2 linked regions of the Homo sapiens genome follow. The protein of the gene in region 1 interacts with the protein of each later gene in a biochemical or structural test. Each region holds a gene or a part of one and is shown in the gene's direction. Other genes may lie near its edges.

Region 1 (3,500 bases):
CAACATGTGAAATAGATGGGGCAGGGGACTTAGGCCTCAGTGACCTTGGACCACAATGATTGCTACTGCTTTCACTTAGAAGCTGAATCTTCCACTGGAAACTGGGATGGATAAGACCTATGATAGTCTTAAAGAGGCTCTATTCCTGTAACATTAAGAAATCATCTGCTGCTTCTGTGATTTTTAAAAAACTAGATCAATCCCTAGTTTTTATAAAATCTTCTTATTAATAATATCAGCCAGGCATGGAGGCCAACTCCTGTAATCCCAGCACTTTGGGAGGCTGAGGTGGGTGGATCACTTGAGCCCAGGAGTTTGAGACCAGCCTGGGCAACAAAGTGACACCCCATTTCTACAAAAATTAAAAATAAAAAAATTAGCCAGCATGGTGGCACATGCCTGTGGTCCCAGCTACATGGGAGGCTGAGACAGAAGGATCCCTTGAACCCAGTAGGTCAAGGCTGCAGTGGGCTGTGTTCACATAACTGCACTCCAGCCTGGGTGATGATAGAGCAAGATCATGACTCAAAAAAAAAAAGAAAAAATTACAAAATCCCCATTGTTTATAGGAAAATTGTAGCCTGATCCTAATAAATAAAAATATGACGTTAAACACAAGAACTTTCCACACTAGAATAGAGATTGTGTTTTTGTAAATGGCTTTTCTGAAAGGTTCTTCTAAATAACAATATTTATAGTATATATGAAAATATTTCATTTTTAAATTTTTAGTTTAAATGTTCCATATAAAATACCTTTTCAAAAGCACTGGGAAATCCTTGTATAAAGCTTGTTTTTTGTCAGCCACAGTAAATGACTTTAGTTGGTTGTTTAAAAATGCTTTTATTCTGTTTCATTTGAAAATGCATTCTTGCCTCTTTTTTGTTTGTTTTAAACTTTGGTACTCAAATACATGTCGCTTGTTCTGTGATTTATGTTGCAATGCTAAGTGAATAACGTACGTCATCTAAGGTTATCTAAGTGGGGTTTAGGCTGGGAGTGGTGGCTCACACATGTAATTCCAGCAGTTTGGGAGGCCAAAGTGGGCAGATCACCTGAGGTCAGGAGTTCGATACCAGTCTGGCCAACACGGTGAAACCTCTACTAAAGATAAAAAATTAGTCGGGTGTAGTGGTACACATCTGTAATCCCAGCTACTCGGTAGGCTGAGGCTCGAGAATTGCTTGAACTGGGAGGCGGAGGTTGCAGTGAACCGAGATTGCGCCACTGCACTCCAGCCTGGGCAACAGAGTGAAACTCCATCTCATCTCAGAAAAATAATAAAATAAATGGGGTTTAGATTGGAATTTTTCGAATCCAAAGTTAACAGTATGATAAAACAAAAGTGCCAGTTGAGTGTCTTCATTTCTTACAGTGCTGGTGTGGGCAGAACAGGCACCTATATTGTAATAGACAGCATGCTGCAACAGATAAAAGACAAAAGCACAGTTAACGTCCTGGGATTCCTGAAGCATATCAGGACACAGCGTAACTACCTCGTCCAGACTGAGGTAAGGAGTAGCTGCCAGCGTCCTCACGACATTCTGGCAAATGCTGTAACTGAAATTTGTTAAATGATAATGAAGAGACAGATTCATTCTTTTAGGGCTTGCAGTAATTTACAGGTTTGTATTAGAAGATATTCTGACAATGATCCTATTCTACGGATCACAGTTTTCCATTTCTGTATGGATCTTAACATTTGGATTCCTAAATAACTACACAAGTACTTACGAAAGAGATACAGTTGTTTCAAGAGCTGTGTTAGATGGTAGGGGGAGTTAAACATGTTGTCTGGCCTGAGAAATACATAGGAGAGGATGGTTCTAAAACCCTTCATTGAACACGATTTTTTGTTTGCTTATTGAGTTGAAGCAATAAGCACAGTATAGAATACCGTGATCCAGGCACAGTATAGAATACAGAGCTAAACTTAACACAGTCTCTACCGTAAAATAAGTTAAGACTGATAAAGTGAGTATTGGAGCAAATCACCTAGCTGTAAGTGCTTGAAGGAAATCACTGGGAGGTCCCTGTTAGCAGCAGAATTAAACTAAGGTACACTTCATGAATGAGTGGCTAACCCTTAACACTCCCTCAGTGACTACCATGTATTGTACCTCTTAGGAGCAGTACATTTTCATCCATGATGCCTTGTTGGAAGCCATTCTTGGAAAGGAGACTGAAGTATCTTCAAATCAGCTGCACAGCTATGTTAACAGCATCCTTATACCAGGAGTAGGAGGAAAGACACGACTGGAAAAGCAATTCAAGGTAGTGCTTTGAAAAAGTTTCTTTGGCATAAAGCAAGAAAATGTTTTAAATGCCTTGAGTTTGGGGGTTATGTCTTCTTTGCATTAATGTATACACCGAAATGGATTACTATTTGTACTCCTTGTACTCCTTAAATGTGATGAAAAAGAAAATACGGTTTTGACCTATGTATGAATTGTTGGTATTCAAGTAGATATACAGTGTTGTATTTTCTTCTGAGCAATTTATGACTTTATCTGAATATAAACATCAGCCCCTGGCCATAATGACATAGTACTTTAAAGTAACTCGTTTAGTCCAAAAAATGTCCTATTTTTTCTGAACTAATCTATCTTACCTTAATTATTAAGAATGATGACTTGTAGACATATTGTCCTAAAAATATGCCTATTTCAAAAACTATTTCAGAAGATAATTTAGGAATTTAAAAAGAATTACTAAACAATACTAGAGAAAAGTTAACTTTTCCTAAATGGTTGTTCTTTTTCTTTGATAGGGACATGAAGAAGCTTAAAAGCGGTTAAGGTTTATATGGAATTGACTGAAGTGAAGGTGAAAAAGAGAGATTATAAGGACTATTAAAATAATTAGGGCTCAGTCATCTGATAATAAATCAAAATTGCTTCTAACTTTCAAACATCGCCTGTCTCTCCAGTTACCAAGTGCTTTCCTATTTATCTTTGTCTTTTAAATTCTATTTTGCACATTGTTCTGTATGTAAATAGTTTCTCCCTTTGTATCAAGATTCAAAGAATGAGATGAATCTACAGTTTTAGTTTTCATGGTAAAACTTTCCATAGACTGAAACTTTCATTTGAATCTCAGCTGAAGAAATGAGACTGCCAAGCAAATTATACCAAGTGATATGAAATGAAAAATAGTTTAATTTCACTGAGTTCAGTCATAAAATTAAAAATTTTTAGCTCCCCATTAACATTCTACTATAAAACCATGAGATAATTAATAATGAGGACACAGTGTATCATTTTAAATGTTTAACATGAGTTCTTACAAAATATTAAGTACCAACATTTCTTAAATTCTGCCTTTTTCGTTTCTTCAATTTTTTTTTATACATACTTTAAAACTTCATTTAAGAAATGCGACCAGGTAGTTGGTTCTTTTACAGGCACTAACCATTTTAGAGCTCAAGATGAAGAAAAAAACAAGAATCAAACTTGAAAATGAAAATTATATCCAGGGACCATGAGTTTTACTAAAGCATC
Region 2 (4,409 bases), on another chromosome or scaffold:
CTTCTCCAGCACCCTAAGTCTTAACCATTCACACCCCTGCCACCCCCTGACCCTGCTGTCCCTCTGCTCCTGCCACCCCATGTAAGCCCCCTCTCTCACCTTCTGCTTTCTCGTTGCCACACTCTGCCTCCCAGGTCCTCGCCATCTCCCTATCCCGTGACTATGCATGACTCTCTGCCATCAAGCCTCACCTTCCGCCTTTCTCTTCTCACTGTGCCCAGGCTTAGGAGCCAGACAACCTGGGCTTGAATCCTCTCTCCACAAATTCCTTGCCCCATCACCTTAAGGAAACTACTTAACCTCTCTTACTTTGTTTCTCTCTTTGTGAAATGGGGATAGCTAGCACTTGATGGGGTTGTTACAAAGATTAAATTTGATGATGTATTTAAGCATTTAGCACAGTGCCCGATACAGGGTGTGTGCTCAATGTATGTCGATAATTATTGTTATTATTTAAAATGTCACCTAGTCCCTAGATTTTGATAGTTCTCTGGCAGCTCTCACATATGATCTGCAGCCAGGACCCCTCTTCTGACTCCAGATCATTTGGTGGGGACTCCATGAAGTGGGGCATCTACTCTGGAAGTCTGGTTTTGAAGTTGGTGTGGAAAGTAGCTGCTGTATGATTCGGAGGCCCATTTTATATCCAGCCACTTCCTGGACATCTAATCCCCTGCGTGAGCCAAAGGCACCAAGGGCTTCTCTGCACCCAAAATGGACCTTCATCTCCCCGCAAATCAGCACTGCCCTCCTGACATGCTCATTGCTGCCTGACACTCCCTCAGCTTACAGCGCGGCATCCTTTTCCTCCCTCGCTCCCTCCCTCTTTCCTTCCTTCCTTTCCTCTCAAAAAGCCAATCTGGTAAACATTTGTAAGAGTCAAGGGAACCTGTTAAAAGCACTAATGCAATAATCTGGAGAGAAAAAGTTGAGGCCAGAATAGGAGCAGCGATCATGGGGTGAGGAAGTGGGGCAGGAACAAGAAGGCTGTTTTGGAGTAGAATGGATAGATCTGAGGCGGCCTGCGCAGACAGACCTAGTTCAACACATGGCTGTATCTCCTTCTAGTTGTGTGTCCTTAGGCAAGTTATTCGGTGTCTCTGAGTCTCAGTGTTTTCATAATGCAGGGTAATGTGCCCTGACAGAAAGGTGGCTGTGAGAATTAGAGGTCATGCTATGAAGCGTGTGGCGGGGAGCAGGTGCTTCAGTGCCAGTGCCATTTTTTTTTTTTAATAAGAGAGTGGTGAATGAGGGCAGGGGCAGAGAGCAGGATGATGCCCAGGTAGTCTCCCTGACCTGGGTTTCGGCCCCTTCTGTCTACCCCCACACTGCATGGGAAGAGTGCACCCCCAAACCATGTCTGGCCATGTCACTTCCTCATCTACCATCTTTTGGGACACCCTCATGCCTTTATTGCTTAATCCTTGTGCCCCAAGCTACCCAGGGGCCTGAACTCTGTCCTCCCTGGGCCCTGGCCACTATGGTCATCTGTTGAACTTGGTGTCCCTCAAGCCCAGAGGGTCCCCAGCTTGAAACAAAGATGCAGAAGTGGACTGGATAGGCTGTGTGCCCATGCCTTACCCTGAGTCTCCTGGCAGTGCCCCCCGTGCCCCTGGCTGCACCTCGGCTCCTGACCAAGCAGAGCCGCCAGCTTGTGGTCTCCCCGCTGGTCTCGTTCTCTGGGGATGGACCCATCTCCACTGTCCGCCTGCACTACCGGCCCCAGGACAGTACCATGGACTGGTCGACCATTGTGGGTGAGTAGGGAGAGAGCTGGGGCAGGACAGAGGTGTTGGGTAATAGTGAAGGGATACAGTGAGCAGGAGAGGGAGGGCAAATGGTGCGAGGGGGCTGAAGGGAGCATGGCAGCTTCTAGAAGAGGTGGGGGCTGAATAATGTGTGCTTTACACCCCACGCCCAGTGGACCCCAGTGAGAACGTGACGTTAATGAACCTGAGGCCAAAGACAGGATACAGTGTTCGTGTGCAGCTGAGCCGGCCAGGGGAAGGAGGAGAGGGGGCCTGGGGGCCTCCCACCCTCATGACCACAGACTGTCCTGGTGAGAGGCCAAGAGTCATCCCTTCCTGTCCCCCCAAGGGTTACTTTCCCGTCGACCCCAGGGACCCCTGCCTTTCCCACTGGAGGTTGTTCTTCCTTGTTCACTGGGGATCATTGTCCTGTCCAGCCCCAAGTACCTACTGGACAGTTCTGACCCCTGACCTCTGGCCCCAGAGCCTTTGTTGCAGCCGTGGTTGGAGGGCTGGCATGTGGAAGGCACTGACCGGCTGCGAGTGAGCTGGTCCTTGCCCTTGGTGCCCGGGCCACTGGTGGGCGACGGTTTCCTGCTGCGCCTGTGGGACGGGACACGGGGGCAGGAGCGGCGGGAGAACGTCTCATCCCCCCAGGCCCGCACTGCCCTCCTGACGGGACTCACGCCTGGCACCCACTACCAGCTGGATGTGCAGCTCTACCACTGCACCCTCCTGGGCCCGGCCTCGCCCCCTGCACACGTGCTTCTGCCCCCCAGTGGTATGTGCAAGGCGCAAGGATAGCTGGGGGTTGGGGGAGGACGTGGGACACAGGGACACATGAGACCTAGGAGACACGGGAGGCTGTAGGAGATTAATGGACATGGAGAGGACACAGGACACACATAGGGTATTAGGCAGACGTGACCCCAGCGGGGACATGGGACTTGGGGAAGATCCAGGGTACCAGGAGGACACAGATCACCAGGAGCATGTGGGGAGAGCATGGGGAGGTCAGGGTTCATGGCGAGAACCAGGGTCATGGGAGGGCATGAGACTTGCGGAACACAGGGCATGGGCGGATGTGGAGAGGACTTGGGATACAAGAAGTACAAGGAGAAGCAGAAGCTTGAGGGTGAAAGTGGCCTGGGGGAATGGAGAGGAATTCAGTCTGGTGGGGAGGAGGAAGTTGGCAGGGTGGCCCCTGTGCTTGGACCCACAGAGGAGGGAGCACAGCTAGAGCAGATGTGTCCAGCCCCACAGCTACATAGCCCGGTCCTATCTGAGCCTTGCCTTCCCCCACCATCTCCCCAGGGCCTCCAGCCCCCCGACACCTCCACGCCCAGGCCCTCTCAGACTCCGAGATCCAGCTGACATGGAAGCACCCGGAGGCTCTGCCTGGGCCAATATCCAAGTACGTTGTGGAGGTGCAGGTGGCTGGGGGTGCAGGAGACCCACTGTGGATAGACGTGGACAGGCCTGAGGAGACAAGCACCATCATCCGTGGCCTCAACGCCAGCACGCGCTACCTCTTCCGCATGCGGGCCAGCATTCAGGGGCTCGGGGACTGGAGCAACACAGTAGAAGAGTCCACCCTGGGCAACGGTGAGAGGGCAGGGCCCACAGGACCCCCCGGGCTCTGAGCGGGGAGAGCTCAGCACGCTCTCCTTCCACATCACCCCCTACTGTGGAGCTAGGGCATCCCAGGCCCCTCCTGACAAAGAGTCAGCCCCAGTCCTGGGGACTCAGCCTTCCATTCTCATGATCCACTGTCCCAGGGCTGGGAAAATCATGTCGCCCCTCTGACACCCCTCATCCCTTCCTTCATGTGGCCCAAGTGATTTCCTGACAGTCCTGGCACTGGGATCTTTCACCTCTCCCTCTGTGTAACCCCATGGTGGCCTCTGGGTTCCCTGACCCAGGTGTCCCCACAATCTGCCCCTCTCACTGTGTCCAGGGCTGCAGGCTGAGGGCCCAGTCCAAGAGAGCCGGGCAGCTGAAGAGGGCCTGGATCAGCAGCTGATCCTGGCGGTGGTGGGCTCCGTGTCTGCCACCTGCCTCACCATCCTGGCTGCCCTTTTAACCCTGGTGTGCATCCGCAGAAGCTGCCTGCATCGGAGACGCACCTTCACCTACCAGTCAGGCTCGGTCAGTGACCCGCCCCGCCCCTGGGTGCATGCTTGCAGCCCGTGTTTATGTTTCTACCTGTGTACACACAATACCTTGTACACCTTGTGTGTGTGTGTGTGTGTGTGTTTATGTTGCAGGTATAAGATTACACTCAACAATGTTCAAGGGTACAAAATATAATTTTCTTTATTTCTCTAAAACTGAATTCAGCTCATGAGCCCATTTATATTAGTGGTGAAATATTTAATATTCCCATTTCAAAAGAATTCCGTGATGACCATATTTCACAATGGACATTCCAGTTTTGGGCTCCGTCAATTGGAGATTTTCCTCTCCCCTCTTTTATTTCTCCCTAGCGGTTATCTAGGCCTAGATAGCAAGGTGATCAAATGGAAGGGCACTTGGGGTTCATGCTGGCTTTTGTCCTTGCAGGCCTTCCTGGGCTCGGGAGCCAGCCTCTGTCTGCACACATCTTTGGCTGATGTTCTTAGCCCTGCTGTGGCCACCTGCCAGTAGGCCAGTCATGCTGTG

Evidence for each region. The genes of interacting proteins can lie anywhere in the genome.
Region 2: of the proteins of PTPRG (region 1) and TIE1, one has a biochemical effect on the other in vitro, tested with the Homo sapiens proteins (one large-scale study listed by IntAct).

What each region holds. Positions count from the first base shown.
Region 1 is NC_000003.12:62,271,571-62,275,070, forward strand, and holds part of PTPRG (receptor-type tyrosine-protein phosphatase gamma isoform 1 precursor), read left to right. Parts: intron 1-1,375; coding exon 1,376-1,511; intron 1,512-2,127; coding exon 2,128-2,274; intron 2,275-3,500.
Region 2 is NC_000001.11:43,310,073-43,314,481, forward strand, and holds part of TIE1 (tyrosine-protein kinase receptor Tie-1 isoform 1 precursor), read left to right. Parts: intron 1-1,598; coding exon 1,599-1,757; intron 1,758-1,921; coding exon 1,922-2,059; intron 2,060-2,232; coding exon 2,233-2,529; intron 2,530-3,062; coding exon 3,063-3,353; intron 3,354-3,705; coding exon 3,706-3,896; intron 3,897-4,310; coding exon of another isoform or gene 4,311-4,394; exon of another isoform or gene 4,395-4,409. UniProt on the Homo sapiens protein: Transmembrane tyrosine-protein kinase that may modulate TEK/TIE2 activity and contribute to the regulation of angiogenesis.